Linked DNA regions of Homo sapiens. The protein of the gene in region 2 purifies or fractionates together with the protein of the main gene of each other region. This does not show direct contact. Each region holds a gene or a part of one and is shown on either strand. Other genes may lie near its edges.

Region 1 (3,297 bases), on a different chromosome or scaffold from region 2:
TGATTTTTAAAAATTAAAAAGATTTTAAAAGATGTACAGAATAGGCCGGGTACAGTGGCTCATACCTATAATTCCAGCATTTTGGGAGGCTAAGGCATGAGGATCACCTGAGCTCAGAAGTTAGAGATCATCCTGAGAAACACAGCGAGATCCCGTCTCTATAGAAATCTTTTTTATGGTGTTGTGCACCTGTAGTCCTCGCTATTTGGGAGGCTGAGGCAGGAAGATTGCTTGAGCCCAGCATTTCAAGGCTGCAGTGAGCTATGATCACACCACTGCACTCCAGCCTAGGTGAGAGTGAGACCCCCTCCTCCCACTACCCAAAAAAATTACAGAGTAATGTAAAGATTTGAAGTGTACTGTTCAGTGGTGAGGCCTGAAGTAGGAGGAGGTGGATTAGAGGTTTAGGAGGTAGATTGGATGGGAGCTGGTGTAGTGTTGAGTGATGTGATAGGGGTGTCCAGCTAGTCTTAATGCTTTGGCTTGGTAGGCAGGAAGGAAAGGTTTTTCCAGATCTGATTGATACCTTTGGTGGTGTTTTGCTCTGGTCCCAAATCTCTCTTCTTCTAGTTTTTGGACACATTTTTAGCTGCTCATTTTCTCAGTTGTTAGCAAATTACCCAGAATTCTTTAAAGGCCTGAGTTCTGCCCTACCCCAGAGGAGAAATCTAAATAGAAAGCAGACCGATGCTTGGAGGAAACCCGTTTCATGCTTCTCAGAAAATGTAAATGCTGTTGGAAGTTACTACCTTTAAAATTATTACCATAGGCAAGAGCCTACCCAGGACTGGTTTCTGGCAACTTCAGACCCTAAACTGGGTGGAGCCACGAAATAGGCCCTCTGTCCCAAAGCAGGCCCACTGAGTAATACAACACCCCTATCCCTGGGAGGCCAAAGCCCTCCCTGCCTCTCTAGCCTGCCTGACTCCTTTTGCTTTGTGCCCTAGCCACAGCAAACATTCTGGTTACTTGCACCTCCTGGCTTTTGCTCCCCAACCCCCATCACCACCCCTTCCCCAAATTAAAGCCAAGTTCAGACATGGCATCTTCCAGGAAGCCTTTTTTGATTCCCTTCCTCATAGAGGGAATCGTGCCTCCTTGGGATAATGCTGCGCCTCACAAATGCTTCTGCAGTTGTGCCTTGCTGTCATTAATTGGTTCCTCATCTCCCTCCCCTCCAGGACTGAATTTGAGAACAAAGATGATGGTGTGTGGGTGTTGGTTTTTTAATCTCTGTGTTTTCAGCACAGGGCCTGGCTTACCACTGAATGTTGAATGAATGAATAAAACCATGCTTTATATTTTTATTTCATATTTAGCCACAGACATGCATGATGCCAGAGGACTGGCCTAAAGGTTCTGGCTAGGTTGTAAGGATGAGAATGTCATGCTAATTTGCCAGATTTATGAACAACCACATAACTGTGCTAAACTTGCATTTTCATGTTGACTCCCATCCAGAGGCTCACCTTGCATGTTGTTAGGAAGGTGCATGGATGGTTAAGATTGTAATTAAATTAACACCCTCTCTTTTGTTGTGTTCACGGCAGGTACTTTGTAAAAGCCCTGACACCAGCATTTTTGGTCTGTGTAGGATCCTCTCCTTTTTGCAAGAATTTTCTCCGGGGGAGAAAGGTGTACCAGATACGATGACTAAGCCAGGGCCCCTGGATCTCCTCCCTTACCCTCCTCTGCTGGGAACCTAGCACACCTGAATCAGCTGGACATACTGCTGGAGTCCAGTGCTTTCTTTCCGTCACCCTGGGGATAGTCCTTCCTGGCATCGTGGTGGGGGAGGAGCCTCTGGCTTCCCTAAACTGCAGCCTCTCTGGCTGGTCTTCACTTTCCTCAGTTGATATAAAACTCTGGGTCTTGGCCATGATGTCCTTGGACTCCATCGCTAAAGGGACCATCTGCTGCAGTTACCACAGCAACTGACCTGAGCGGCACCCTGGTCTGTGGAGATGGACTCAGGATCCAGTGACATGATTCTGAACTTTTGTGGAGTTTGACACCTTAGAGAAGCTACCCCTCAAACTGCACATCTACACACAAACAAACAATGCATAGGATTCCAAGGCTTTAAAGCTGAGAGACCCTGGCCTCAAGTTATTTCATGCGCACAGAGGGAAGCCATGTGGGGTTGCTGAAGATGCCTTGAGGTGAAATGGGGGCAGGAAAGCCACATCTTGCTCTGCATTTATAAAGACCGTACAAACTCAGATCCTTGGTACCCCTAAAAAGATTGCCAATTTTCTTCATCTTTGCCATATGGAGGACTGTGACAGACTTTGGACAGTGGCCTCTTGAGTTCCTCTGCAGTTTTGACATTTAGGATTTTGTGTCTTTTAAACTGGAAAATCTTCTAGCATGTTGGGTTGTTACAGAGTATATTTTTGTCTGCAGCTGTTTGTTGCCCCATTCCTAAGAGGAGTTTATCCATCCTGACTTGTAGCTGTGTGACTTCTTGCAGTGCCCCCACCCCATCCCCCCGGGAGAGTGTACTTCCCTGCTCCCAATGCAGAGGGATATGCACAGGCATGAGCTGTCCTGCGTCTGACAGAAGCCTGAAGAGTCATGTGTGGTTGGCCTGTGCTCTTCCCTCTGCTGTGAGAACACATTTCCCACAGAGGAGCCGTTCCATGGAGCCGAGCTACAGCAGCTGGCCTGCAGCCACTGAGTGTCACAGCAATGAGAGAGCAATGTTTGCTGTAGTAAGCAGTGAGATTTAGGGGTTGGTTGTTACTATAGCAGAGCTAATACATGAGTAAACTGAAGCCAGCTGCTGTCCTTAAAAGTGGACTAATTTGAGGCTGGGTGCGGTGGCTCACGCCTGTAATCCCGACACTTTGGGAGGCGGAGGTGGGTGGATCACCTGAGGTCAGGAGTTCGAGACCAGCCTGACCAACATAGCAAACCCCGTGTCTACTAAAAATACAAAAATTAGCCAGGCGTGGTGGTAGGCATCTGTAATCCCGGCTACTCGGGAGGCTGAGGCAGGAGAATCACTTGAACCCGGGGGGCGGAGGTTGCAGTGAGCCAAGATCGTGCCATTGCACTCCAGCCTGGGCAACAAGAGCAAAACTCTGTCTCAAACACAAACCAAAAAAAAAGTAGACTAATTTAGAGTTTTGTGTAGTGTGCCTCACTGTCTTTGAAAGGAAATTGGCTGTGGAATATTTACAAAGAACCATGCAGCTTCCAGGTGCCGGTCCCTGTCTGTGGCTTGTGGCTAGGAAGCTGAAGTTCAGCCTCCTTCCTACTCCTGGTTTTGGCCACTTAAGGACCTGAGGACCA
Region 2 (3,500 bases):
CCTGAGTAGCTGGGACTACAGACGCATGCCAACACACACGGCTAATTTTTGTATTTTTAGTAGAGACAGGGTTTCACTGTGTTGGCCAGGCTGGTCTTGAACTCCTGACCTCGTGATCCGCCTGCGTCGGCCTCCCAAAGTGCTGGGATTACAGGCGTGAGCCACCGCACCCGGCCTATGGTGGCCACTTTTACCATGTTGGGGGATTCACGTCTGGAGCCATAAAGCCCCATTCTATGTTTTTCTCTTACCTCTATGTAAGCATATAAACTTGAACTTACCCTATTCCCCCAAGAGTCTAACTAGAGATATAAAGCTCTAAGTATTTCCCTATGTATTTGTCGATAACAAATCAATAAACAGCTGGAAACACCTGCCACTGGGGAGGTCTGATGGGAGTTATTAGGTGCTCCTGGTAACGTTTACATTTACAGTTCTTCTCAATGGATTTTTTTTTTGACAGACATCAGTCCCACCTTCCAGTAGTTTACAACAATATCTTTTTTTTTTTTTTTTTTTTTGAGATTGAGGCATGATCTTGGCTCACTGCAACCTCCACCTCCTGGGTTCCAGTGATTCTCCTGCCTCAGCCTCCCAAGTAGCTGGGACTACAGGTGCCCATGACCACGCCCGGCTAATTTTTGTTTTTAGTAGAGATGGGGTTTCACCATATTGGCCAGGCTGGTCTCAAACTCCTGACCTTGTGATCTGCCTGCCTCAGCCTCCCAAAGTGCTGGGATTACAGGCGTGAGCCACTGCACCTGGCCTACAACAATACCTTATCAGTTCTGCTTTCAGTTTCCTTTTCATGAACCATATACCTTCTCCCTGAAGAAGAAACCATATCTTATCATTTTCTGTCTCCCCAGATCTTAGCACAGTGCCCTACACATAATAGAAAGTTGGTGAGTGAATGAGTGAATAAATGAAATGAAACTATTTCCTTCTGGACACAGGTGAGCTGAGTCGTCAGCTGGAAGAAAAAGAAAGCATAGTATCCCAACTTTCCAGGAGCAAGCAAGCCTTTACCCAGCAAACAGAAGAGCTCAAGAGGCAGCTGGAGGAAGAGAACAAGGTACACCATTGAAGGAAGACTTCTTTGCCCTTATTTTTAAATATCACCTGTAGGAGGAAAAAATAAAAGGCAACTTCATTCAGAAGGTGGTGATAGAAGGGACACACTTGGATTGTATCATGCACCTGGCACTAAATATATCAGGTGCTCTTCTCTTTTTAACTTCTGCAGGCCAAGAACGCCCTGGCGCACGCCCTGCAGTCCTCCCGCCACGACTGTGACCTGCTGCGGGAACAGTATGAGGAGGAGCAGGAAGGCAAAGCTGAGCTGCAGAGGGCGCTGTCCAAGGCCAATAGTGAGGTTGCCCAGTGGAGAACCAAATACGAGACGGACGCCATCCAGCGCACAGAAGAGCTGGAGGAGGCCAAGTGCGCAGCTCTGTTTGCTTTTAGAAGAACTACTTAGGAATGAATTCGATGAATTTATTTTTATTACTAGGCGTTTCCCCATCTCATGTGTCTTTAAATGCGGTGCTGGGCCATTAGAGGGACCTGGCGTTAGCACATTTTATTAAAACAAACAGCTTTGATCTTGGTCAGACACAAGGCAAGTTATTGATCCCAGATTTTGAGTAGACAGGAAATTCTCCTGGGCGTATAAAAACACATGGGTGTCTGAATCACATAGATTAGTGATTCCAACTTGATGAATAGTGATGTTCAAGTGGATGGAAACTGAAATAACAGCTGCTTCTCTTTCATATTCTTTAAGGAAAAAACTTGCTCAGCGCCTTCAAGATTCCGAGGAACAGGTTGAGGCAGTGAATGCTAAATGTGCTTCACTGGAGAAGACCAAGCAGAGGCTGCAAGGAGAGGTGGAGGATCTGATGGTTGATGTTGAAAGAGCCAATTCCTTGGCCGCCGCTCTGGACAAGAAGCAGAGGAACTTTGACAAGGTGTGGGGTCCGCTGTGTGCTGGGTGAATGCCATGATGTAAGGGATTCCTAGCAGCCGTGGAAGGAGGAGAATGCATCCCGGACCTGACTCTGCCCTCACCAGCAGTGTGGCCTTGGGCAAGTCCCTGAACTTCACCGGGCTGTAGTTTCCTCATCTGCAAAACAGAATGGGAATGGGCTGGGGGTAGAGGTCCCTTTCAAATGTTGTCCGTGGAAACAAACCAATTTCTACAATGTCCGTGCAGTCCTAAGCATTTTTCCTTTCCGTACTACTGGTCTGTCTAAGCTGAGATCCTATTGGGAGGCTTTCTGGAAGCCCTTCTTTCAAGATGGCAGATAAAGTTGATTGGAACCAATGCTTTAATGAAATATTTAGAAGTACAGGGCCCTTTTTATATTAGGAAAAGGACAATTATGCCCAGCTAATTCCTTCTCAAAGGATCTATTTGCTTTTTCAAGATGGCAATTGTTCCTGACTCATTACCTTGAGTACATTTATGGAACAGAATCTTGATTAGCCCAATAATCGACAACAAGGAGCCAGGCAAGTGATGCCAAGTGTAGCCCTAACTCTGCATTTAATTTAGTTATTTAGTATTTTGTTAGAAACCTAGAGGAGAGCTCAGAAACGGAGAGAACTTCCGTCCGGTGTTTCAGGTGTTGGCAGAGTGGAAGACAAAGTGTGAGGAGAGCCAAGCAGAGCTGGAGGCATCCCTGAAGGAGTCCCGCTCCTTGAGCACTGAGCTCTTCAAACTGAAAAATGCCTACGAGGAAGCCTTAGATCAACTTGAAACTGTGAAACGGGAAAATAAGAACTTAGAGCGTAAGCTATTCGAAACCCTCTGAAACCTCCTCCTTTCATGCTCTATTGCTCGAGAGCATGCTGGCGTGGGTGTGGCTTCATCACTCAGTTTCCTGCACACATGTGTGTTAATGCACATGCAGAAAGTGTTCACCATCTGACGGGTTACGTTTTAGCCTCTCTCTGTACAATATCTTATCTCTAGGAAGCAGGAAACCTTAGGATTATAATAAACCAGGTAAAAAGCATTGAGTCAATGCTTTGCATGTCTGGAAACCCACGCAGAGGCGCTCATATGCAACTGAAACTTACTTCTTTACAGAGGAGATAGCAGATCTCACAGAACAAATTGCTGAAAATGGCAAAACCATCCATGAACTGGAGAAATCAAGAAAGCAGATTGAGCTGGAAAAGGCTGATATCCAGCTGGCTCTCGAGGAAGCAGAGGTGAGTGCTGGGAGGCAGGCTCAGGCGCAGATGCAGCCATGGTGAGCCACGGCCAGGGAGGCTGGCTGCTCCATGCTGTGTCTCCATTTTTGCCTTTGTCAAATCACAGTCCTAATGCCTGCTGCTTTCCCGTCACACAGCAAAACTGTGAGGCTGAATAATACCTGTGAATTATCTTAAATTTATTGGAGAAGACTGTCATATTAAATAGGCCTAAAGATGAGATTTTACAAAATATTACATGAATTAAAAATATCTAGAAAGTGCTTTATGCTCCTAAG

What was found. The genes of interacting proteins can lie anywhere in the genome.
Region 1: the proteins of MYH3 (region 2) and TTC4 purify together in Homo sapiens (co-immunoprecipitation; one large-scale study listed by IntAct). This does not show direct contact.

Annotation. Positions count from the first base shown.
Region 1 is NC_000001.11:54,739,861-54,743,157, forward strand, and holds the end of TTC4 (tetratricopeptide repeat protein 4), read left to right. Parts: intron 1-1,550; coding exon 1,551-1,653; 3' UTR 1,654-2,797; downstream 2,798-3,297.
Region 2 is NC_000017.11:10,633,310-10,636,809, reverse strand, and holds part of MYH3 (myosin-3), read left to right. Parts: intron 1-956; coding exon 957-1,075; intron 1,076-1,246; coding exon 1,247-1,443; intron 1,444-1,786; coding exon 1,787-1,970; exon of another isoform or gene 1,971-2,125; intron 2,126-2,627; coding exon 2,628-2,793; intron 2,794-3,094; coding exon 3,095-3,219; exon of another isoform or gene 3,220-3,394; intron 3,395-3,500. UniProt on the Homo sapiens protein: Muscle contraction.